Linked DNA regions of Homo sapiens. Changing the gene in region 1 together with any one later gene gives a genetic interaction. Each region holds a gene or a part of one and is shown in the gene's direction. Other genes may lie near its edges. The genes, in order: BDP1, ADAT2, GEMIN2, SPOUT1, EIF3C, PSMD1 and UBA2.

The links.
Region 2: changes in BDP1 (region 1) and ADAT2 together harm fitness less than expected from each alone (positive genetic interaction), as found in Homo sapiens cells (one large-scale study listed by BioGRID).
Region 3: changes in BDP1 (region 1) and GEMIN2 together harm fitness less than expected from each alone (positive genetic interaction), as found in Homo sapiens cells (one large-scale study listed by BioGRID).
Region 4: changes in BDP1 (region 1) and SPOUT1 together harm fitness less than expected from each alone (positive genetic interaction), as found in Homo sapiens cells (one large-scale study listed by BioGRID).
Region 5: changes in BDP1 (region 1) and EIF3C together harm fitness less than expected from each alone (positive genetic interaction), as found in Homo sapiens cells (one large-scale study listed by BioGRID).
Region 6: changes in BDP1 (region 1) and PSMD1 together harm fitness less than expected from each alone (positive genetic interaction), as found in Homo sapiens cells (one large-scale study listed by BioGRID).
Region 7: changes in BDP1 (region 1) and UBA2 together harm fitness less than expected from each alone (positive genetic interaction), as found in Homo sapiens cells (one large-scale study listed by BioGRID).

Annotation. Positions count from the first base shown.
Region 1 is NC_000005.10:71,563,651-71,565,985, forward strand, and holds part of BDP1 (transcription factor TFIIIB component B'' homolog), read left to right. Parts: exon of another isoform or gene 1-1,103; coding exon 1,104-1,235; 3' UTR 1,236-2,335. UniProt on the Homo sapiens protein: General activator of RNA polymerase III transcription. Requires for transcription from all three types of polymerase III promoters. Requires for transcription of genes with internal promoter elements and with promoter elements upstream of the initiation site.
Region 2 is NC_000006.12:143,444,196-143,447,695, reverse strand, and holds part of ADAT2 (tRNA-specific adenosine deaminase 2), read left to right. Parts: intron 1-797; coding exon of another isoform or gene 798-861; intron 862-2,726; coding exon of another isoform or gene 2,727-2,768; exon of another isoform or gene 2,769-3,500. UniProt on the Homo sapiens protein: Probably participates in deamination of adenosine-34 to inosine in many tRNAs.
Region 3 is NC_000014.9:39,127,823-39,131,322, forward strand, and holds part of GEMIN2 (gem-associated protein 2), read left to right. Parts: intron 1-457; coding exon 458-526; intron 527-3,500. UniProt on the Homo sapiens protein: The SMN complex catalyzes the assembly of small nuclear ribonucleoproteins (snRNPs), the building blocks of the spliceosome, and thereby plays an important role in the splicing of cellular pre-mRNAs.
Region 4 is NC_000009.12:128,823,295-128,826,794, reverse strand, and holds part of SPOUT1 (28S rRNA (uridine-N(3))-methyltransferase), read left to right. Parts: intron 1-165; coding exon 166-255; intron 256-361; coding exon 362-411; intron 412-642; coding exon 643-773; intron 774-1,745; coding exon 1,746-1,818; intron 1,819-1,925; coding exon 1,926-2,024; intron 2,025-2,620; coding exon 2,621-2,723; intron 2,724-2,900; coding exon 2,901-3,048; intron 3,049-3,500. Other genes in the region: KYAT1-SPOUT1 (uncharacterized protein LOC127739546), read left to right, coding at 166-255, 362-411, 643-773, 1,746-1,818, 1,926-2,024, 2,621-2,723, 2,901-3,048. UniProt on the Homo sapiens protein: S-adenosyl-L-methionine-dependent methyltransferase that specifically methylates the N3 position of a uridine in 28S rRNA. Required for association of the centrosomes with the poles of the bipolar mitotic spindle during metaphase.
Region 5 is NC_000016.10:28,717,964-28,721,463, forward strand, and holds part of EIF3C (eukaryotic translation initiation factor 3 subunit C), read left to right. Parts: intron 1-312; exon of another isoform or gene 313-3,069; intron 3,070-3,500. UniProt on the Homo sapiens protein: Component of the eukaryotic translation initiation factor 3 (eIF-3) complex, which is required for several steps in the initiation of protein synthesis.
Region 6 is NC_000002.12:231,070,367-231,073,866, forward strand, and holds part of PSMD1 (26S proteasome non-ATPase regulatory subunit 1), read left to right. Parts: intron 1-1,822; coding exon 1,823-2,049; intron 2,050-3,500. UniProt on the Homo sapiens protein: Component of the 26S proteasome, a multiprotein complex involved in the ATP-dependent degradation of ubiquitinated proteins.
Region 7 is NC_000019.10:34,438,381-34,441,880, forward strand, and holds part of UBA2 (SUMO-activating enzyme subunit 2), read left to right. Parts: intron 1-264; coding exon 265-386; intron 387-3,500. UniProt on the Homo sapiens protein: The heterodimer acts as an E1 ligase for SUMO1, SUMO2, SUMO3, and probably SUMO4. It mediates ATP-dependent activation of SUMO proteins followed by formation of a thioester bond between a SUMO protein and a conserved active site cysteine residue on UBA2/SAE2.

The DNA of each region.
Region 1 (2,335 bases):
GCCTGTAATCCCAGCACTTTGGGAGGCCAAGGCGGGCAGATCACCTGAGGTGAGGAGTTTGAGACCAGCCTGGCCAACATGGCAAAACCCCATCTCTACCAAAATACAAAATTTAATCAGGCACGGTGGTGTGTGCCTGTAGTCCCAGCTACTTGGGAGGCTGAGATAAGAGAATTGCTTGAACCCGGGAGGTGGAGGTTGCAGTGGGCTGAGATCATGCCATTGCATTCCAGCCTGGCTTTGTCTTAAAATAAATAAATAAATAAAAAGGTACCCTTCCCCACCTACCTCCGTCCAGAATTATAAAAGTGTTTTTCCATGGCATTTTTATAGTAGAGTTTTTTAAAAAATACTTTTACATTTAAATCTTTTGATCCATCTAGAATTTGTTTTGGTAAGGTATTGGTCTGACTTTTTTCCCCCTGAGATGGTTATATAGTTGTCCAACATCATTTATTTAATAATACAATAACTGTTTTTGATATGGCACTTTTATCAGATGCTAAATTTCTATATATATTGGGGTTATTTCTAGTCTTCTGTTTCATTGATATATCTGTCATTCGTGTGCCAATACCATGCTGTCTTAATTTGTTTATAGATTTGTAAGTATGCTAATTTCTGATAAGGTATCTTTGATATGTTTTCTTTAGGTGCTGTTTTGTCATGGGTCTGTCTATTATGCAAATAATTAAAGTATTTTTACTTTATTTAGTGACAGATTTAACCATATTATATTTTTCTTTATTAAAATTTTTCATGGAAATTAGGATGAAGTAATGGATTATGGGTACACTGTAATTTACCTAATTATATCTAGTGTGGTATATTTAGTTGCTTCCTATTTTATTATTATAACTAATGCTACAAAGGTTATCTTAGTCATAAAACTCCTACTATGTTTAGGATTATTTACTTAATGTAACAGCATAGAAGTGAAATTTTTGGGTCAGTGATTGTGAACATATTTAAAGCTCAATATTTATTGCCACGTTGCTTTTCAAACAGATCATATTGGTTTAGACTGCTATATATACACACACATATATATATAAATGTTGTATTACAGTTTTATTTTTACTTTATTTTTATTACCTTTTTAGGTTTCTTGTGATCAGCCCTTACTGAAAGAAGGATATAAAAGTGCCCAAAAGCGGGCCCCTCAAGGGGAGGCAACCACAGTCTCTGAATATTTCTTCAATGATATCTTCATTGAAGTGGATGAAACAGAATAAAACAATCTTTTCTCTTTTTCTTTTTTAAATTAGGTCTAGGATTTCCAGAGTCAATTACATCAACAAAACAGTATTTAGAGCAAAATATCACTGTCTTATTTTTCTTTAGGTTGATTTTGAATACTTAATGAGCTTGATTTGAAGCTTTTATAATCAGTGGAAAACATTTCTGAGGTTCCTTTCATTCTGACTGATTCAGCATTTTGCAAATAGCAAGCAATTAAGACTGCTTTCTCAGACAGAAATAACAACTCTTGTTTACATTTTGACTCTTCCTGTGCTAAGCACACATGGACATTTGGGAATGTTGTGGATATATGTCTCTGTATGAATTGCAGTGCAGACAGATTTGGGGGTTAATTGTATCATATTTAACATTTAGCAACTTCTTTTGTGAAGATTTTTTATTTTTAGGGGGAGATGATGAAGGATGAAGGCTTTTTCATTTGCTTCTAAGTACAGTCATGTATCACATAATGAAGTTTAAGTCAATGATGGACCACATATATTACAGTGGTCCCATGCAATTAAAATGGAGATAAATTCCTATCAACTAGTGACATTATAGCCATCATAACACAGTGCATTGCTTTTTTATGTTTAGATATGTTTAGATACACAAATACTTACTATTGTGTTACAACTGCCTACAGTATTCAGCATAGTAACACATTGTAGAGGTTTGTAGCCGAGGAGCAATAGGCTATACCACATAGCCTCAGTCTGTACGGTGTGTAGCAGCCTGTACCATCTCAGTGTTTGTAAGTACACTCTGCGTTGTTTCACACAAGATCACCTAACAAGGCAATTCTTAGAACATGTAGTTAAGGGACACGTGACTATATGTGAAAACAAATTGTCAAACTTCACTTTAGTATGGCAAATGTTAAAGAACTTTTCTATTATCAGCTGTTTGTCTGACTGAAAAATACATATTTTTCTAATTCATGGTGATGTAACATTAGTCCTAATTGAAAAACTAGTATTTAAACATAATTATTTATAAAGATGACACATCAAAGGGCTTATTTATTTTTAAATTTTTTATTTAAAAGGATATTCAGTTTTAGCTATTTTTACCCCTCAGATTGTAGATAAAG
Region 2 (3,500 bases), on another chromosome or scaffold:
CCTTTTTTTTTTTCCCAAAGTGAAAATATTTTAATGTTTTCTTTTTCTGGTTATGTAAATAATTCATGGTCATAAAAAATTCAAACTATAAAAAAGGGTTAACAAATTATGTAAAAATTACCTAAAAGTCCTACTATTAGAGATAATACTATTAGTATTTTGGGAGCATCCTTCCATATCTCTCTGTCCATATGTAAACAGCCATATGTACTTTTGCATAAATGGAATTATATGTTCTCTTTTTGATTATCAGCAGTTTTTTTTGGTAGTCTTAATATATTAGTCACTCCTCCCTACCTCATGGTATTTCTGTTGCTATGGAGTGACTACCTAAAATGGGACAAAGGATGTATGTGCTTTGAAATTATATAGATATTCCTGTATTGCCTTCTAAAACCATAATGCCTAATATCGTAGCCACTAACCACATGTGTCTATTTAAGTTTAAATTAATTAAGGTGAAATAAAATAAAATCTAGCTCCTCAGTTGTATTAGCCACATTTCAAGTAGTCAGCACCCACATATAACCACTGGCTACCGTATTGGACAGTACAGATCAAAGGACATTTCCATCACTACAAAAGGATCTGTTGGATAGCATATAAGGTTATCAACTTTACTGCTTTTTAATAAAACCATTATTTTTCATGGCAGGTTTCTTTCTGAGAGCTAAGCATAGCATCATCATAGGTTATCATTTTAATCATCATAACATGTTCAGCATAACATTCTAAAGATAGGCTTGGAAAAAAGAAGTATGACTAAGTAATAGTGTTGCACTCTTGGTGTGTTCCAGATACTATGCTATGCACAGTGTTTTCATGTGGGCCATGTTATAAGCCCCACAGAAGCCCTATCAGGTGAGTATTATTATGGTCCTCATTTTCAGATGGGATATTGAAGCTGAGAAAGTTCAGTAACTTCCCCAAAGTTAGAGAGCTGGGAAGGATGGGGCTGTGATTTGAGGCCTGTCATCTGCTGTTAAATACTGGCCTGGCCTGCCTCTCGGTGTTAGGTAGCTCACTGCTTGCCAACATATCCTCTGCTCTCTTTCTTCCTTTTCAGTTTCTTTACCTGAATACTGTGTATCTACTGTGTAATTTAATTGAACATTTAGATTTTTTTCTTCTGTGAATTGCCGAGGCATATACTTTCCCCAATTTTGTAATAGTTTGATTTAAAAAATCGCACTGTAGGAGCTCTTTGTATTTTACAGCTGTTTCTAGGAATAAATCACAAAGAAGCAATATAAATATTTATATAGAGAAGTTCTTTACTTGTTTATAATAGTGAAGAATTTGAATCACTTAAATGTCAAATAATAGGAGACTAGTTGGTTGAATCAGATATGTTCATAAGGAGAAATACTGTACAACCTTTACAAAATCATGTGATGAAAAAATATTACCCAATATAGGGAAAGGTTAACAATACATTTCTAAATGAAAAGGGCAGACTGCTGAACTGTATATACAGTGTAAATCTATTTGACTTTTTAAAAACTGTAAATATGTGTATGCAGGGCATAGGAAAAAACAGAAAAAACCCCCGTTGCTTCAGAATAACAGGGATTATATTTTGGGGTATTGGGATTCTTAGTGGGTTTTTTTTTTTTGATACATGAGGTTTTTTTTTTTTAATCGCTAAGTTCTCCACCTTGAACACATCTTACTTTATAATTAGGAAAAAAGAAAGATTGACTAACTATCTATACATATGTGTATAGAAAAAATGTTGCAAGTTTTCTAGAAAAAAGTCAATTGTATTTTTTTATAGTGTGCATTTTTGGGGCAATTGATATTAATATAACATTATGCTAGGCTCTGAGGGAAATTCGAAAAGAAAGCAAACACCACAGACACCATTTCAACAAATGTGGTATGATTAAGTTTTTGCTATGTGTTAGACCTTGTGCTGGGTGCATAGGCTGCAGAGGTGAGCAAGAGAAGCTTCGTAGTGCCTGGATCTAGTGCTTGCCTTCCAGGAACATACTGTTTAATTGATGAAATTAAGTCAGGCACAGATGAAAAGGTTGGTAAGTAACATGTCCAAAGACCACAAGAGACAGATATAAAGTGCTGTCAGATAACAGCTGGCAAGGTCCTTCAACACGTCCGTTGAGATAAATGATAGAATTCCTTCTAAATTTTAAGGGACCAAAAGGATGTGGGCTGGTGGAAAGGAAAGGTTGATCCAAGCAAAGATACTGTCATGTCCAAAGAAATCAAGAACTTTGTTTTGGGTTAGAAGGAGATCTATCTATCTATCTAGAACAGGGCTCCCTGACCTCAGGCTCAGGTTTAGGGGGATCTATGAACGCTGAAACTATATATAAAATATTATGTGCGTGTGCCTTTTTCAAGTGAGACAGTCCATAACTTTCATCAGTGTCTAAAAGGGGATTTCTGCTCTGAAAAGGTTAATAACCTAAATGAATAATGAAAAGTTAGGTTGGTTCGGTTGGCCAATGGGAGGGTGGGTGATAGTTGGGAGACCTTCAGTGCCATATTGAAGAATTTAAAGTTGATGGAATAAAAACATTATCACTTTTTAAATCCCCAAAGTTAAACTATATAACTGTTTCTGCTAATTACTCAGAGAGTAATCACTCAGAAGAGAGTAATTAGCAGAAACAGTTATATAGTTTAGCCTTTTGGACAGGATGATGTTCTACCTGAGAGTTCTGGCTAACTTGTTTGTTCCCCCTAATTTTTTGTCTTTATAGGAAATATTTCTTTAAGGACTCATCAAACTGTGTGCAAACAAGGTCTGTTTCCATCTCTCCCCCTTTTATCATGACATCACTAGAAAGCAGTTTATAGTAGTAATGTCTTTGGAGAAAATAATAAACTACGAAGTCTCTTCCATCTAGGTGCTTTCATTATCTGTATCTGGGCAGGCCCTGACTAGAGAAAAAAAAGAAATTATATTCAAGGACAAAATAGAGACCAGTGTTTGGGCTGGGAAGAACAGAGATTTTATTCTTTAATTTTGAAGGTTGATCATTTGTTACTTTATGAAAAACCTTGTAGCCATTTTTAAATAGTATCTGATCTTGGTCTTTCCCCCTAAAAAAGGCAAGAAAGGTTAAATTCAAAGCTACCTGCACAAATTTCAGACCCATTTTGCCTGAGCTTTTTTGCATTTGTGAAGAAGTGATCAGACTTGACAGTAGAGTTGTTGGGAGAGTTTGAAAGTATGATATGGGTATGGGGTGAAATTGATTTCCAGCTTAATTAAATCTATTGTGAACTTGTTAGTGAAGCAAATCTACATGTTAATTGTTGTAAAGGAGTTCCCCTCAACTCACTTCCATGGGGCTTTGTGTTATTCTCACCGCCCCCTCCCCTGCCTACCATTCCAGTTGCTTACCCACTCATCCTCAGCATGGCAGGCTCGGCCATTCCTCAACAATGACGTTATTTGTCCTTTTAAAATATTCCGATCGCTCATATTTGCTCTCTGTTTCGGACAGCAGTGGAAGGCATTTCAGGAAAAA
Region 3 (3,500 bases), on another chromosome or scaffold:
ACTTTGGGAGGCCGAGGAGGGCGGATCACCTGAGGTCGAGAGTTCGACCAGCCTGACCAACATGCAGAAACCCTGTCTCTACTAAAAATACAAAAATTAGCCGGACGTGGTGGTGCACGCATGTAATCTCAGCTACTCAGGGGGCTGAGGCAGGAGAATTGCTTGAACCCGGGAGGCGGAGGTTGCAGTGAGCCAAGATCGCACCAGTGCGCTCCAGCCTGGGCAACAGAGTGAGACTCTATCTCAAAAAAAAAAAAAAAAAAAAAAAAAAGCCTCATTGGATAAGCCGCCTAATCAAACTAATTAGAGTCAAACAAATTAGCTTTCTTTGAAAGTTTAAAGAATGAGGCCATTTTTAACATCAGAGTTGCTTTCTAAATAAACTTAATGAAACTCATGTTGAATTCATGTTTTATTATTAATACAACTCTTCTCCACCCCCTCTTTTTTTTTTTAGGCAACAGTAACTAGTGTCTTGGAATATCTGAGTAATTGGTTTGGAGAAAGAGACTTTACTCCAGAATTGGTAGTATTGCATGTTTTTCTTTTCATAATGTAGGCAAAAATTAGACGTTTTGGGTCAACTGTGGGCCACATATACAATGGTGCTCCTATAGGATTATAATACTGTATTTTTACTGCACATTTTCTTTTTTTCTTTTCTTTTTTTTTTTTTTTTTTTTTTTGAGACAAGGTCTCGCTCTGTTACCCAGGCTGGGGTGCAGTATTACAATCATAGCTCACTGCAACCTTGATCTCCCCAGCTCAAGCAATCCTCCTGCCTCAATCTCCTGAGTAGCTGGGACTACAGGCGCATGCAGCCACGCCCAGTTTTTTTTGTTTTTTGTTTTTTGTTTTTTTTATTAGAGACAAGGTCTCACTGTGTTGTCCAGGCTGGTCTTGAACTGAGTCCAAATGATCCTGCCTCCTCACCCTCCCAAAATGCTGGGAATTACAGGCATGAGCCACCATGTGTGCGGCCTTTTGTGTTTTTTAAATAGAGACGAGGTCTCACCATGTTCCCCAGGCTGATCTCAGACTCCTAGGCTCAAGTGTTCTTCCCACCTTGGCCTCCCAAACTGTTTGGATTACAAGCATGAGCCACTGAGCCCGGCTCCTTTCCAGTATTTAAATATGTTTAGATCTGGCCAGGCACAGTGGCTCATGCCTGTAATCCCAACTACTAGGGAGGGCTGAGGCAGGAGGATCACCTAAGGCCAGGGAGGTTGAGGCTGCAGTGAGCCATGATTGTGCCACTGCACTGCACTCTAGCCTGAGTGACAGAGTGAGACCCTATCTTAAGAAATAAATATATGGTTTTTTTGGATGCACAAATGTTTACCATTATGTTACAGTTGCCTACAGTATTCAGTATAGTAATGTGCTATATAGGTTTGTAGCCTAGGAGCAATTGGCTATGCAATATAGTCTAGGTATAGTAGACTATACCATCTAGGTTTGTGTAAGTATACTCTATGATGTTCATCCAGGGTCAAAAATCACCTAACAATGCATTTCTCAGAATATATCTCCCTTCATTAAGTGATGCATGACTGTACTTGATGTGATGCTACGGTATTTATTTATTTTTTATTTATTTGTTTGTTTTGACATGGAATCTCCCTCTGTTGCCCAGGCTGGAGTGCAGTAGCGCGATCTCGGCTCACTGCAGCCTCCACCTCCTGGTTTCAAGTGATTCTCCTGCCTCAGCCTCCCAAGTAGCTGGGATTACAGGCACCTGCCACCACACCCAGCTAATTTTTGTATTTTTGTAGAGACAGGCTTTCTCCATGTTGGCCAGACTGGTCTTGAACTCATGACCTCAGGTGATCTGCCCGCCTCCACCTCTCAAAGTGTTGGAATTACAGGCGTGAGCCACTGCACCCAGCCAGTATTTATATTTATATTTATATTTGTATATGTGTGTGTGTGTGTATATACATATGTATAATCTGAACTATACTTGTTTGTAGTCAAATAAGAAACACTAGAATGTAAATCAACATACTACTTCCTTCATTGAGAAAGTCTTGGAGAAAAAAAGTCAATGAAAGAGTTGATGTATATCCTGGTACAAGGTACAAACTCCTTATCTCATTGCAGACAAGTTTGTTTTTTTTTTTTTTTTTTTTTTTTGAGATGGAGTCTCACTCTGTCACCCAGGCTGCAGTGCAGTGGTGCCATCTCGGCTCACTGCAACCTCTGCCTCCCAAGTTCAAGCAATCCTCCTGCCTCAGCCTCCTGAGTAGCTGGGACAAGTGTAGAGAATATTTAATTTAAATTAAATATTTAATTTAAATGCTAGCTTTACATAGTAAATGTATCCCTTAAAATTTGAGTCAAGTTGAAACATATAATTTTTTTTTATAGAAAAAGAATTCCACAATTTGTAAAAGAAACCTGGATTTGAATCTTTTTCTGTAAGAAAAAGTCTTAACTATTGATTTGAGTTTGCCTGAGGAACCCATTTAGTGTGTTGTATAAATTGCTATTTAAATTTTGTCCTAATATTTTTTAGGTTTCCCCGAAGTGATATGTTGCTTAGAATAAACAAAGTTGTATATACTACTGGTGGAAATACAAATTTGGTATAACCTTTCCAGGATACAATCTGGTGATCATATCTGAAAAACCTTGATGAATATACATACCCTTTGTCACCATTTTACTTGCAATACTTAATAAACTTTCCCCATGTTGTTAAATGAGATTAAACAAGGGAATGTTATTAAATACTCTAAACAAGACACTTAACATTCCCTTGTTAATCCCATTTAACTACAAGGGATGGCTGAGTGGGGTGGCTCACTCCTGTAATCCCAGCACTTAGGGAGGCCGAGGTGGGCGGATCACTTGAGGTCAGGAGTTCGACACCAGCCTGGCCAACATGGTGAAACCCCCATCTCTACTAAAAATACAAAAATTAGCTGAGCATGGTGGCGGGCGCCTGTTGTCCCAGCTACTCAGGAGGCTGAGGCAGGAGGATTGCTTGAACCTGGGAGGCAGAGGTTGCAGTGAGCCGAGATGGCACCACTGCACTCCAGCCTGGATGACAGAACGAGACTCCATCTCGAAAAAAAAAAGAAAAAGGACAAAAACAACATGGTAAACATTTTATTATGTATTATAAATAAAAAAGATGGCTACAAGATGATATTACAACTGATGAAATTGTATTGAAAAAAGGTTGTACAGCCGGGCATGGTGGCTCACGCCTGTAATCTCACCACTTTGGGAGGCTAAGGCAGGCAGATCACTTGAGGTCAGGAGTTCGAGACCAGCCTGAACAACATGGTGAAACCCGGTCTCTATTAAAAATACAAAATTAGCCGGGTGTGGTGGTACATGCCTGTAATTCCAGGTACTCAGGATGCTGAGACAGGAGAATTGCTTGAACCCGGGAGGCAGAGGTTGCAGTGAGCCGAGATCGCGCCATTGCACTCCAGCCTGGGCAACAAGAGTGAAACTCTGTCTCAAAAAAAAAGAAAGTTGTACATACG
Region 4 (3,500 bases), on another chromosome or scaffold:
CATGCAGTGGCATGGTCATGGCTCACTGCAGCCTCTACTTGCTGCACTCAGATGATCCTCCCACCTTAGCCTCCTGAGTAGCTGGGATTATACGCGTGCACTTGTAGACAGGAGCTCTTGAAGGGGCCACAGCTGGATCCTGAGCCCCCATCTCTCTCTCTCCAGGACTGTGGAGGGGGAATTCACAGGAGTTGGGAAGAAGGGGCAGGCGTGCGTACAGCTGGCCCGGATCCTGCAGTACCTGGAGTGTCCACAGTAAGGGGGTCACTCCCCTAAGCATGAGGGAGGGGTGTGTCAAAGTGGAGACCAGGTAGGAGGCGGCTTCCCCTGGGAACATCCTGAGGTCAGCATTCTTTCCTAGGTACCTGAGGAAGGCGTTCTTCCCCAAGCACCAGGATCTACAGTTTGCAGGTAACGCTGTATGGGCCCGCCCCCCCATTTCCCCTGGATCATGCCACAGACACTGAGACCACCCAGTCCTACCCTGCGCTGTCCAGGTGGGAAAGCAGGCCTGGGAGAGCAAGACCTGTGTCTGATGCCAAGACGCAGGTCTGTGGCAGAGCCGGTACTCCGCTCCAGGGTCCCCACTGCACCCTGTGTGCCCTAGCACTTCCCAGACTCTTCCCGGCTCTGCCTCCACAGGGCTCCTGAACCCCCTGGACAGCCCCCACCACATGCGTCAGGATGAGGAATCCGAGTTCCGAGAGGGCATCGTGGTGGATCGGCCCACCCGGCCAGGCCACGGCTCCTTTGTCAACTGTGGCATGAAAAAGGTAGGAACAGAAAGATGGGCTAGGACACACCTCCAGGACACACCCTGGCAATGGAGGGCAAGCAGATGGATGTTGCGGAGAGCCCTGGACCTGCCCGAAATCCCTCACTGATGCAAATTTGGGCCAGAGAATTGTGCAAAATGGGGCTCAATAGATAAAGCCAGGAATGAATTTACTGTTGCTTAAAAAGCAAATCAACAGAAGACAGTCCTCATGCTCCAAACAAAACCCTGCAGAAACAAGTTGAAAGTCACTCTGGAGCTGCTCCCATGTGGCACAGAGCCAAGCTGGGATGAGGGCATTAATTTGCCGCCTCTTTATCCTCAAGCCTCCTCAAATCAGAGGCAGAAACCTTTACATGTATGGAGTCCCTTCCTGTCAGAAAGCACAACCCAAGCGCAGTGGCTCACGCCTGTAACCCCAGCACTTTGGGAGGCTGAGGCAGGCGGGTCATTTGAGGTCAGGAGTTTGAGACCAACCTGGCCAATATGGTGAAACCCTGTCTCTAATAAAAGTACAAAAATGATCCAGGTGTGGTGGCACGCATCTATAATCCCAGCTACTCGGGAGGCTAAGGCAGGAGATTCACTTGAACCCAGGAGACAGAGGTTGCAGTGAGCTGAGATCGTGCCACTGCACTCCAGCCTGGGTGAGAGAGCCAGACTCCATCTTAAAAAAGAAAAAAAAGAAAAAAAAGTTGCAGAGCTACCAAAATGTAGAAAACTGAGTTTCATCTACTTCTATCCTGTGCCATGAGCGCCCCAAAGGTGCATGTTTGGCCAGTGACCTGTGTTTTGCACAAATGATCTCTTGTGAGCAGGTTCAGCCGGTGCCAGGGGTGGAGGGTGGCAGGTTGACCTGGACCCCTTGGTCCCTTGCCAGCCCCGGGGCTCCCCTGGTGGCATCTGGAAGAGCCGTGGCCCCTGCTGATCTTGAGAGGAATGGCACCCATTTCTTCTGGCTTCTCCCCAGGAGGTGAAGATTGACAAGAACCTGGAGCCCGGGCTTCGGGTGACTGTGCGACTGAACCAGCAGCAGCACCCAGGTATCTGGAAGGTTCCCCAACCCCTGGGTTGGCCTGATGAGCTCCAGGGTTCAGCCACCTGCTTCCATTCCCTCACCCCATCTTTACAGACTCTGTTACCCCTCCAGACTGCAAGACCTACCATGGCAAAGTGGTATCATCGCAGGACCCTCGCACCAAAGCTGGTCTCTACTGGGGCTACACCGTCCGACTGGCTTCCTGCCTCAGTAAGGACAGACCTTACTTCTCTGAATATCCATCCATCCCTCTGGGAGGTGGCCGGGAGCCTTGCCTGACCCAAATATCAGACCAGGGTTTTTGTCCTGTCAACTTGCTGTGTGTCCTTGGGCAAGTCCTTCCCCTTCTCTGGGCCTTGTTCTCCCTGGATGCACTGCCTGGAATGCTGTTAAGGACTACTGAGCAAAAGTATCATTATTGATCAATAATGTTTCTGTAGGGTTGGGAATGGAGGCAAAAGGGCCAGAGAAGTCAGAGGCCCACTTCATGTTCTTGGTGCCTCTTCCTATCCAGTCTCTGCCCTGTTCCCCAGCCAAGCACAGGCTTGGTGTCTGCCCTGCTCAGTCCTTGACTTTCCAGGAACAGCTCTACCCACCCCTGCTCGGTACACACACACCCCTGCCTCAATGCACACACAGGCAGAGCTCTACCCACCCACCCCTACCTTAGTACACACACGCACACACACACACACACACACCACACAGCTCTTCCCACCCACCCCCGCCTCAGTACACACACACATAATACCCGGAGCTATGGCTTGTGGGGAGCAGGACCTGCACTGAGCTGGCCCCACCCCCAGGTGCTGTGTTTGCTGAGGCCCCCTTCCAAGATGGGTATGACCTGACCATCGGGACGTCAGAGCGCGGCTCAGATGTGGCCTCTGCCCAGCTTCCCAACTTCAGGTGTGTACCTCCTGGGGCTGCGGCCAGGGCAGGAGGAATGTGGCCAGGAACCTGCCTGGTGGGTGAAGCTGCACAGATGGGCCCCTGCTGTCTGGGGTGGGGAGGGACTGAGGTCTGGGCGCTGTGCTGGGTGGGGCCTCGGTGGCCGCTCAGGTGACCCCCTCTTACATGGGCCAGGCATGCTCTTGTGGTGTTCGGGGGCCTCCAGGGTCTGGAAGCTGGAGCGGATGCTGACCCCAACCTGGAGGTGGCTGAACCCAGTGTCCTCTTTGACCTGTACGTCAATACCTGTCCTGGCCAGGGTAGCCGTACCATCCGCACGGAGGTGAGCCCGCCTGCCTCCCCGACTGCCAGCCACTGGGGCCTTGGGATCTGTCCGAGGGGCGGGTGCTACTCTTGCCCTGTCACCCACCCTTGCCCGTGGCTGCCTTGTCTGGAGGTGGTCCTCTCATCCCCCTTGGCCTCTTGCCACAGCGACGAGACATGAGTGTAGCTGGGAGTCAACCATGGGTGCTAGTGCCCGTCCTGTGCTCCCAGACTGGGTGACCCAGGGGGCCCTGCCCACCCCTGCTCCGGGCCTCTGGTTCCTTAGCCGTGCGCTCAGTGATCTCCCAGGGCCCTGGTTCTGCCACTTCCTTGTGTGTGACCACGGTGGGCACAGCAGCTCTCCCCTTGGGGTCTCACTTGCATCTGTCCCACGGGGGAAGCCACGTGCAGCTGGAGCCTTCGTCCTGGCCTCATGGAACCTGTGTACCCACTTTTGGGGTCAGGCATAGG
Region 5 (3,500 bases), on another chromosome or scaffold:
AAGGCAGGAGAATTGCTTGAACCCGGGAGGCGGAGGTTGCAGTGTGCCGAGATCGCGCCATTGCACTTCAGCTTTGGGCAACAGAGCAAGACTCCGTCTCAGGAAAAAAAAAAAAAAAAAAAAAAAAGAGTGTCTCTTAAGCACAGCTAGGTTTTTGGTTTGTTTTTTTTTTAATCTCATAAAATCTCTGCTTTTTTTTTCTTTTATTGTGATACATAACATTTCCCATTTTAACCATTTTCAGGTATACAAATCAGTGGCATTTAGTACGTTCACATTGTGCAATGACCGCCAGAACTTGATCTCTGCTTCTCTGGCAATTTAGTTCATTTACGTTTATTATAGTTATTTACATATATATGATGGTTATTTATATATGTGTCTACATAATTAGTTTTTATCAAGATGGGGTCTTGCCCTGTTGCCCAGGATGGTCTCGAACTCCTGGGCTCGAGTAACCCTTCTGCCTGGGCCTCCTAAAGTGCTGGGATTACAGGCGTGAGCCACTGCGCCCAGCCTATTGTGGTTATCAATGCATTTATTCTTACCATTTTATGGTATCTTATACTTTCTGTTTATCCTCTTTATTTTAAATTTTGTAATAGCTTTATTGAGGTGTACATGACATACAATAACTGCACTTGTTTAAAGTTTTTTTTTTTTTTTTTTTTTTTTGAGACAGAGTCTTGCACTGTCGCCCAGGCTGGAGTGCAGTGGCGCAATCTCGGCTCACTGCAAGCTCCACCTCCCGGGTTCACACCATTCTCCTGCCTCAGCCTCCTGAGTAGCTGGGACTACAGCCACCCGCCACCACGCCTGGCTAATTTTTTGTACTTTTAGTAGAGACAGGGTTTCACCATGTTAGCCAGGATGGTCTCGATCTCCTGACCTCGTGATCCACCCGCCTCGGCCTTCCACTAAGTGCTGGGATTACAGGCATGAGCCACCGCACCCAGCCTTAAAGTTAAATTTAATAAGTTGTGACATATGTTTACACCCATAGAACTCACCACAATCAAAACATAATATCCTAAAAATTTCACACCTAAACATTTCCACCTTCCCCTTTGTAATACTTCTCCCTGCCTCAGTTTCCTCACCCTATCCCTGGGCAACCACTAATTTGCTTTCTGTCACTAGGTAAGTTAGCATTTTCTAGAATTTTATGTAAATGGAATCAACGGTATATAATTTGGAGGGGGTAGTTTCTTTAATCATAATTATTTTGAAATTCATTCTGTCTTCTAAAGATTGGGCATCTCTAATTCCAAAGTCTGAAACTTCTGGAGCACCATAAGTGGACAATTCCACATCTGACCTCATGTGACAGGTTGCAGTCAAAACTTTGTTTCATGCACAAAATTATTTAAAATACTATGTAAAATTGCCATCAGGCTGTTTGTATAAGGTGTAGATGAAACACACAAATTTCATAGTTAGACTTGGAGCCCTTCCCAAGATACCCCATTATATATATGCAATTATTTGAAATTTGAAACACTTCTGGTTCTAAGCATTTCAGATAAGGGATATTCAGCCTGTATTTTATTTTTCTTTTATTTGTGTGTTTTTTGTTTTTGTTTTTGAGAAGGAGTCTCACTGTGTTGCCCCGGCTGGAATGCAGCGGTGCAATCCTGGCCCACTGCAACCTCTGCCTCCTGGGTTCAAGTGATTCTCAGGCCTCAGCCTCCTGGGTAGCTGGGACTACACGTGAGCACCACCACGCCCAGCTAATTTTTATATTTTTAGTAGAGATGAGGTTTCAGCATGTTGGCCAGGCTGGTCTTGAACTCCTGACCTTAGATGATTCGCTCGCCTCAGCCTCCCAGAGTACTGGGATTACAGGCATGAGCCACCACACCTAGCCTACATGTATTTTCTCATCCTCTTTTTTTTTTCCCCGTTTCTAGTTATATATATTTTCTTATTATTCATTTTGTTTTTTTCTGCTGGTTTGGGAGTTAGACGTGCTATGCTTTTAGAGGTTATTCTTGAATTTTTTTTTTTTTTTTTTTGAGACACTAGCCTGTTGCCGAGGCTAGAATGCAGTGAGTGGCGCAATCTCGGCTCACTGCAAGCTCCGCCTCCCGGGTTCACGCCATTCTCCTGCCTCAGCCTCCTGAGTAGCTGGGACTACAGGCACCTGCCACCATGCCCAGCTAAATTTTTTTGTATTTTTAGTAGAGACGGGGTTTCACTGTGTTAGCCAGGATGGTCTCGATCTCCTGACCTCGTGATCTGCCCACCTCAGCCTCCCAAAGTGCTGGAATTACAGGCGTGAACCACCGCACCCAGCCAAATTTTTTTTTGTTAACCTGTAAACTAACTTGTATACCTAATCAGAATAGTCTAAAATTAGTTGAATCAATGTTCTGAGGAAAACCCTTGAGAAAATAAAGTTAGAATTTCAAGTGTCAGAATCTTTTTGACATTGAGAGTTTGTGGCTTTGTAGTGTAGAAGAATAATTCACAGACACTATTTCACTTGTGTAACAAGGGAGACAGATTTTCAGATTAATTTCCAACCGAGCAAAAGCAGGATTTATATAGGAGAAAGAGGAACAAGGAGAGAGGGCAAAACCACAGAACAGTGGATTCTGTTTGCCCGTTTTTCTGTGTAAACTCTGATATTAACTCTCCTTGAGTATGCCACCCAGGGTTGGTGGATGCTCTAGAAAACACGATAGGCCCTCTGCCAGTAAGGGTTTTCAGCAACTCCAGATTCAGCCAGTCTAAATATACCCTTTCCATCATCAGCATTTCTCAGCCTTCATCTTTTGGTCAAAACAAGCTTGTAAAGGAGTGGGTTTATTCTCATGAGCTTCAGCCTCTTTGATGTGGGATAAGGCCATCTGTTGTCTTATGGTGATCTGAAGGTATTAGGGGGAAGTTCATCTATACCTGATGTCATGATTGACCTGTGAACTCTTTTTCTTTTTTTCTTTTTTTAGATGGAGTCTTGCTCTGTTGCCCAGGCTGGAGTGCAGTGGTGCAATCTCATCTCACTGCAACCTCCGCCTCCCTGGTTCAAGCAGTTCTCCTCAGCCTCCCAAGTAGCTGGGATTACAGGCACGTGCCACCACGCCTGGCTAATTTTTTGTATTTTTAGTAGAGACGGGGTTTCGCCGTGTTAGCCAGGATGGTCTCGATCTCCTTATCTCTTGATTGCCTGCCTCGGCTTCCCAAAGTGCTGGGATTACAGGCGTGAGCCACTGCGCCCAGCGACCTGTGAACTCTTACAGAGCTGCTGTCTACTTCTAAGAGTTACCTGATTCTGGAGGCGTTTTTTTGTTTTTGTTTTTGTTTTTTAAGTGAACCCCAGGATCTCTAGTGAGACTGAATGTCCGAGTTAGGATCCTAAGCAAGGGTATACATCTAGGGCTTTCCATCAGTAGTTGTGGTTGGGAAGGCATGGGAAAATGGTGTGGTCCTCTGCAGTGTAGTTAGGCCTGACTTCCGTTGGTGTCTCTCAATAATGAGTTTTTAGTCTCTTAACTATG
Region 6 (3,500 bases), on another chromosome or scaffold:
AAAAAGCTATTTTGTTGTAACACATTCTTTCTTTGTATTCTTTTTTCATTTTGAAAATCCAATAATTTAAGGAAATTTTTAGAAATAACGAAGGTTTTTTAAAAAGCTAGAAGATTAAAACAGTGCCTATGCTATACTATATCATTCTAAAGAGAATTCAAAGTGTATAAATTATATATGGTTTCATTACCCATACACACCAAAACATTTGGGTATCTTTTCTTTATCTCTTTCTATATATAAATTTGCTTGCACATAAAAAAAAATTCAGATGGTACAGAAAATATATAAAATGAAAAGTAAGGCTTCTCTTTCCCATCATTTGGGCTTTTTCCCAAAGGTAAGACATAGATGTTTTTCCCTACTTATTCACACATGTGGATCTACTGCATTCTTTTAATGACTGTATTGTATTTTATTGACTGGAGGTGTGCATGGGTTTACTTTTTAACAATTGCTATGTTGTATACATTTTTTGTATTCTGCTCAGGGCATAGCATTTTATTGCACATTTTATTGTTTCTTCATTAAAATGTGCTCCTGTGTATTTTAATCCTCTAGACTTTGAAAATTTAGATTAAAACACTGTTTTTTACAATCCCTTTTAAAGCAAGTTTGAAACAAAATACTAGAAGAAAAAATATCCATGTTTAAATCACCCAAAGTCAACTTACTATTCTAACTTGATTTTTTACATCACCCAAAGTCAATTTAGTATTTAATAGTGTATTTCCTTTCAGTTTTCTCTACATAGGTTTTCGGAGTTTTGTTGTTTGTAAATATTTTTCATAGTTTTTTTTAAAACTGACATGAAAAATAGTAGTTCCCTGCCCTCTTCCTGTCTGTATTTCAGTTTTATTCCTTAGAGGCAATTTTATTTCTTTCAGCTGTTTTATTCCTTATCTTTTTATTATTTTTAAAAACTTTATTGCTCATTTTTAAAATAATATATTTTTGAGCAGATAATATGTTCATGTGATTTAAAATTCAAAAAGAATGATGGGGTATACAATGAAGTCTTCCTATTACTTGGCTCCAGCTACCAAGTTCTTTTCTCTGTGGATAAACAGTGTTAATTGTATACAGTCTTTAACATTTTTCCATGTTCTAATTCTTCATAGAGTCCTCTTACTTGATTGTTGTAATCATTCAGTGTATGTACTTTGCCCTACTTAATCATTCCCCTATTGTTGACCACTTATTTTGTTTGTGTTATTTCGTGTTCTTAATTTATAATAACTTTGATTAATGTGTTTATTTTGAAGTTGAGTTACTTGCTGCCTAAGGGAACAAGAAAATTTAAATTGAGTTTTTAAAAGAAAAATTCTAACTTTGTTGGATAATTTTGTTAAAACAATGGCAGATCATAAGAGTAGTAAGAGAAATGCTTCAAAATGGTAATTTTAATGTCTCTTGTCCTGGCCCAACACAACACAATGTATGTTAAATGAATGAGTAACTTCCATAATATATGGTAAGGGAGAAAATAACAAATTAAGGAGCACTTAGGTATAACTTATGGATAAGATTTAAAGAAGCCAAGATTCATTCAACAACCAATGTTGAATACTGCTGATTACCAGGCACAGCATTAAGAGTTATAAATATAATTTGTATGAATTTTTTTATGGAAGACAGATGCCATGTTTAGAAAAATTTCATCTAGTGCTGGGTTTAGAAATAGAGTGCTAGACTGGATAGTCTGCCCTAGTTTGCCTGTGCTTATATTTTAAGGTTTTCTATAATGTTGATTTTGTCTCCTTAAGTACCTTGTAGATGAAGTTTTTAATTATTGAATAATTGTTCTTTATCTCCATTTCAGTGCTTAATTTTCTTAGATGATCCTCAGGCTGTGAGTGATATCTTAGAGAAACTGGTAAAGGAAGACAACCTCCTGATGGCATATCAGATTTGTTTTGATTTGTATGAAAGTGCTAGCCAGCAGTTTTTGTCATCTGTAATCCAGAATCTTCGAACTGTTGGCACCCCTATTGCTTCTGTGCCTGGATCCACTAATACGGGTACTGTTCCGGGATCAGAGAAAGACAGGTATAAGTACCTTTTTCTGCATCAAAACTAATTGAATAATCTTTATTTCATTTTGGGGACAGGTAGAATATTTATAGGAAGCATATTCTAAGAATAAATTTTGCCACTAGCTTTCATAGATTGTAAAGTCTTATTAGGCTGTTGCTCTGTTTTGTACTGTGCTGGGTGTAGTAAGGAAAACCGAAGAAATTGACCCTTCTGGAAAGAAATAGAAGTGATTATCTCGTAGGGAGGGCCTACCAGACAACATGTGTACTATTTAATCAAGTAAATTTAAAAAAACAGGTGGGGATAGGTTGGGGCTACCTTTTAGATATTTGGGTTAGATATATCTGGGTTAGATATTTAGAAAGTAAAGAACATTCTCAGCTTTTTATGCTTTTATTAGAACTAAATACACAAATTTCTATAGTATTAGAAATTTGCATTCTGTACAAATTGATATGGTATTAAAATTTTATTTTTCTGTATTTTACACGTTTAGATCACTTACTAAAAACATTTGTGTGTCTTAGTTGTGCCTGTATATGCCGGCAGCCCCCTAGCCCGCTCTTTCACTGGATATCTGTGTCTGAGAAATGTGGGACTCTCTCTTTCACTTAAGCACTCAGAGGCCATTGTAGGGTTATTAATTGGCCTAATTTCAATATTGTTGTGTCTCAGGGAATAGGGAGTCCCAAGGAGAAGGAGAGAGATGGGGGAATGACCGGTGTGTGGAGCAGTCAGAACACACACATTTATTGATTGAGTTTGCTGTTTTATATGGGTGTGGTTCGTGGTGTCCCAAAACAACTACAATGGTAACATCAAAGATCACTGATGACAGATTACCATAACAGATATAACGATAATTAAAAAGTTTTAAATATTGCAAGGATAACTAAAATGTAACACAAGGACAAAGTGATCACATACTATTGGAGAAGTGGCTCCAATAGACTTCCTTGAAGGGCAGTAAAACAAAGGTATGCCTATATTTTTCTTTATATCACTACCTCTTTCCTTATTACTAAAACTATGCTAAGTCTTGCAGTCAGGTATTGTAAGACCTACAATTTTGATTCTTTTTTCTTTTTCAAGATTCTTTGGGCTATTGTAGATTTTTTGCATTATATAAGTCTGTGGGTGTTCTGATTGGGATTGTATTGAATATCTTCAATTTGGGGCACATTGAAATCCCGATAATATTGAATCTTGTAATCCAGGAATATGGTGATCTTTTTCATTTACTTAGGTTTTTTATTTTTTTCTCAGTAGTGTTTTGTAGATTCAGTGCAGAGGTTTTACACATCTTTTCTTAAATTAATGTTCTTATATCCCTAAGTATAATTTGTTTTTTGATGCTGTTGTGAAGTGGTATTTTTAAATTTCTATTTTTTTTGTTGGTAGTATATAGAAATATAATTGATTTTTATATACTAACATTGAATCCTATGACCTTGATAAAATCA
Region 7 (3,500 bases), on another chromosome or scaffold:
AGTAATTTTTATTTGGGCTTGTAAGTCATGTTCACTGAACCAGGAGTCGGCGTCCTGGCACAGCCTTAGCTATGACTGGTAGATTCAGTTAGCTTTTGTGTTAGTTTATCATAAAGTAAGCATTTTGGAGTCACTAATATTTTAAAATTTCCTTGACAACGTAAAACGTAGTTGGAATATAGATGAATGAAGTGTTTATATTACCTTATAATGTTGAGAAACTGCCATCATGGAGTAAATTTTTCTCATATCCTGACTTCATAGGGTGTGACCGAGTGTTATGAGTGTCATCCTAAGCCGACCCAGAGAACCTTTCCTGGCTGTACAATTCGTAACACACCTTCAGAACCTATACATTGCATCGTTTGGGCAAAGTACTTGTTCAAGTAAGAGTGTATATTTCTTGGCATGCTTTTCGGTACTGATGATGGAAAATGGAGTCATTTTTATTTAATTACCTTGAAGAGATTGAACTCAGGATGTTTAAATATGGTGAAGGGATGCTTTAGTAGCTTTCTTGCAGTATTTCTTAGGTTAAATGTAGCTGGCCGGGTGCGGTGGCTCACACCTGTAATCCCGGCACTTTGGGAAACTGAGGTGGTCGGATCACCTGAGCGCAGGAGTTTGAGACCAGCGTGGCCAGCATGGTGAAACACATCTCTACTAAAAATACAAAAATTAGTTGGCCGTGATGGCGAGTGCCTGTAATCCCAGCTACTCGGGAGGCTGAGGCAAGAGAATTGCTTGAACCCAGGAGGTGGAGGTTGGAGTGAGCCGAGATCGCGCCACTGCACTCCAGCTTGGCAACAGAGTGAGAATTTGTCTCAAAAAAAAAAAAAAAAAATGTGGCCATGACTGTTCAGGAAACTTAGTCTTATATTGGAGACAGCCATGTAACTAAGCGATAAAAATCTTTATATTTGGAAATGTGAACATTTACTTACAAATAACCCATTGGTTATAAAAGAAATCACAATGGAAGTTAAAAATACTCTGTACTGATAATGATGAAAATGCTATACCAGAATGTATTGAATGTGGTGGTTGGCAAAAAGTTACAGATTTACATACATGAAGAAAGGCTGAACATTAATTACTAAATCTTTACTAAGAATCCAATTTAAGTTAGAAAATGAACCACAGAATACACTTTAAGAAATGAGAATGGTGTGGGCATGGTGGCTCATGCCTCTAATCCCAGCACTGTGGGAGGGTGAGATGGGAGGATCCCTTGAGCCCAGGAGTTTGAGACCAGCCTGGGAAACATGGCAAAACCGTGTCTCTACAAAAAATAGAAAAATGAGCCAGGTGTACCTGTACTCCCAGCTACTTGGGAGGCCGAGGTAGGAGGATCAGTTGAGCCTGGGAGGTTGAGGCTGCAGTGAACCGAGATAGTGCCACTGCACTCCAGCCTGGGTGATAGTGAGATCCTGTCTTAAAATGAAGAAAGAAAGAAAAAAAGAATGAGAAGGAAGGATATTAATTGAAGTAAGAGCACATTTGATTACAAAATAGAAGAGGAGTAAGTGAGAACTAAACGGGGAATACAGATAGCAGAGATTAAATAGGCTATAAGAAAAAAAAGGGATGATAATAAGACCATGGTAGTACATAAAAAATTTAAATGATCTGGGTAAATACATTTTTAAAAACTTACTAAGTGCCCAGTGCGGTGGCTCAGGCCTGCAATCCCAGCACTTTGGGAGGCTGAGGTGGGTGGGTCACTTGAGGCCAGGAGTTTGAGAACAGCCTGGCCAACATGGCGAAACCCCGTCTCTACTATAAATACAAAAATTAACCAGGCGTGGTGGTGGGCATCTGTAGTCCCAGCTACTTGGGAGACTGAGCCATGAGAATCACTTGAACCCAGTGGGTGGAGATTGGGCCACTGCACTCCAGCCTGGGGGACAGCATGAGATGATGTTTCAAAAAAAAAAAAAAAATGAAAGGAAAATAGAATGCCTGAATTTAGCAGTATACCTTAGAGCAATGTAAGTAGTTTAAATTATTCTAAATAATGCACCGAACCTATGTTATTTTTACAGATTCATTTCACAAAACTTGCAAGGAGTATATTGTAATATTAGCTAAACTCTCCCTGAGAAATTTTTAAAAGGGAATACTACTTAGCTTGTGTTATTAGGCTAGCAATGTCTTTGATAGCAAAACCTGTCAAGGCCATTATGGCATAAGAAACAATTGCTAGTCAGTCTCACACCTAAATAATAGATGCAAAAATCCTATGTAAAATATTAGCATATCCTGGGAATGGGCGCAGTGTATCATGCCTGTAATCTCAGCACTTGGAAGCTGAAGCGGGTGGATCACCTGAGGTCAGGAGTTCAAGACCAACTTGGCCAATATGGCGAAATCCTGTCTCTATTAAAAATACAAAATTAGCCGGACATGGTGGTGGGCGCCTATAATCCCAGCTACTTGGGAGGCTGAGGCAGGAGAATTGCTTGAACCCGGGAGGTGGAGGCTGCAGTGAGCCGAGATCGCTCTGCTGCGCTCCAGCCTGGGCAACAGAGCAAGACTCCATCTCAAAAAAAAAAAAAAAAAAATTACCATATGGATCTAGAATCATATAAAATAAAAAGTGTGTCTTGACCACGTGTCTATTCAGGAATACAAGCATGGTTTAAACTAGAAAATCTGTAAATGTCATTCACTCATTAGGAAATTAAAGATAAACTATATAGTTTTCATAGATACAGAGAAAGCATTTGGTAAAATTTAGCAAATGGCCTTTCATGATGAAAGTTTCTACTAAAACAGAATAAAAACTTACTAGGCCGGGCGAGGTGGCTCACGCCTGTAATCCCAGCACTTTGGGAGGCTGAGGCGAGCGGATCACGAGGTCAGGAGATCGAGACCATCCTGGCTAACACGGTGAAACCCCATCTCTACTACAAATAAAAAAAATTAGCCGGATGTGGTGGTGGGTGCCTGTAGTCCCAGCTGCTCAGGAGGCTGAGGCAGGAGAATGGCGTGAACCCGGGAGGCGGAGGTTGCAGTGAGCTGAGATTGCACCACTGCACTCCAGCCTGGGCGACAGAGCGATACTCCGTCTCAAAAAAATAAAAAATAAATAAATAGATAAAATTAAAAATAAAAAAACTTCTTACTAAAATGAGAATGTTCTCAACCCGATAAAGGGTATTTTGTAGAAACCTTCAGCAAACATTGTCTTTAATTTTTGCACTCAGAAAAGTATACATAACAGTGTCAACTTGATAAATGTTCACAAAAACTACACTTGGAAGCTTTATTTATTTGGCAAACATTTTTTTTCTTTGGGAGGCTGAGGTGGGTGAATCACTTGAGGCCAGGAGTTTGAGAACTGCCTGGGCAACATGGCGAAACCCTGTCTCTACTAAAAATACAAAAATTAGTGGGGTGTGGTGGCACACGCCTGTAGTCCCACCTACTCGGGAGGCTGAGCCATGAGAGCCGCTTGAACCTGGGAGGCGGAGGTTGAAGTGAATGGAGATCATGCT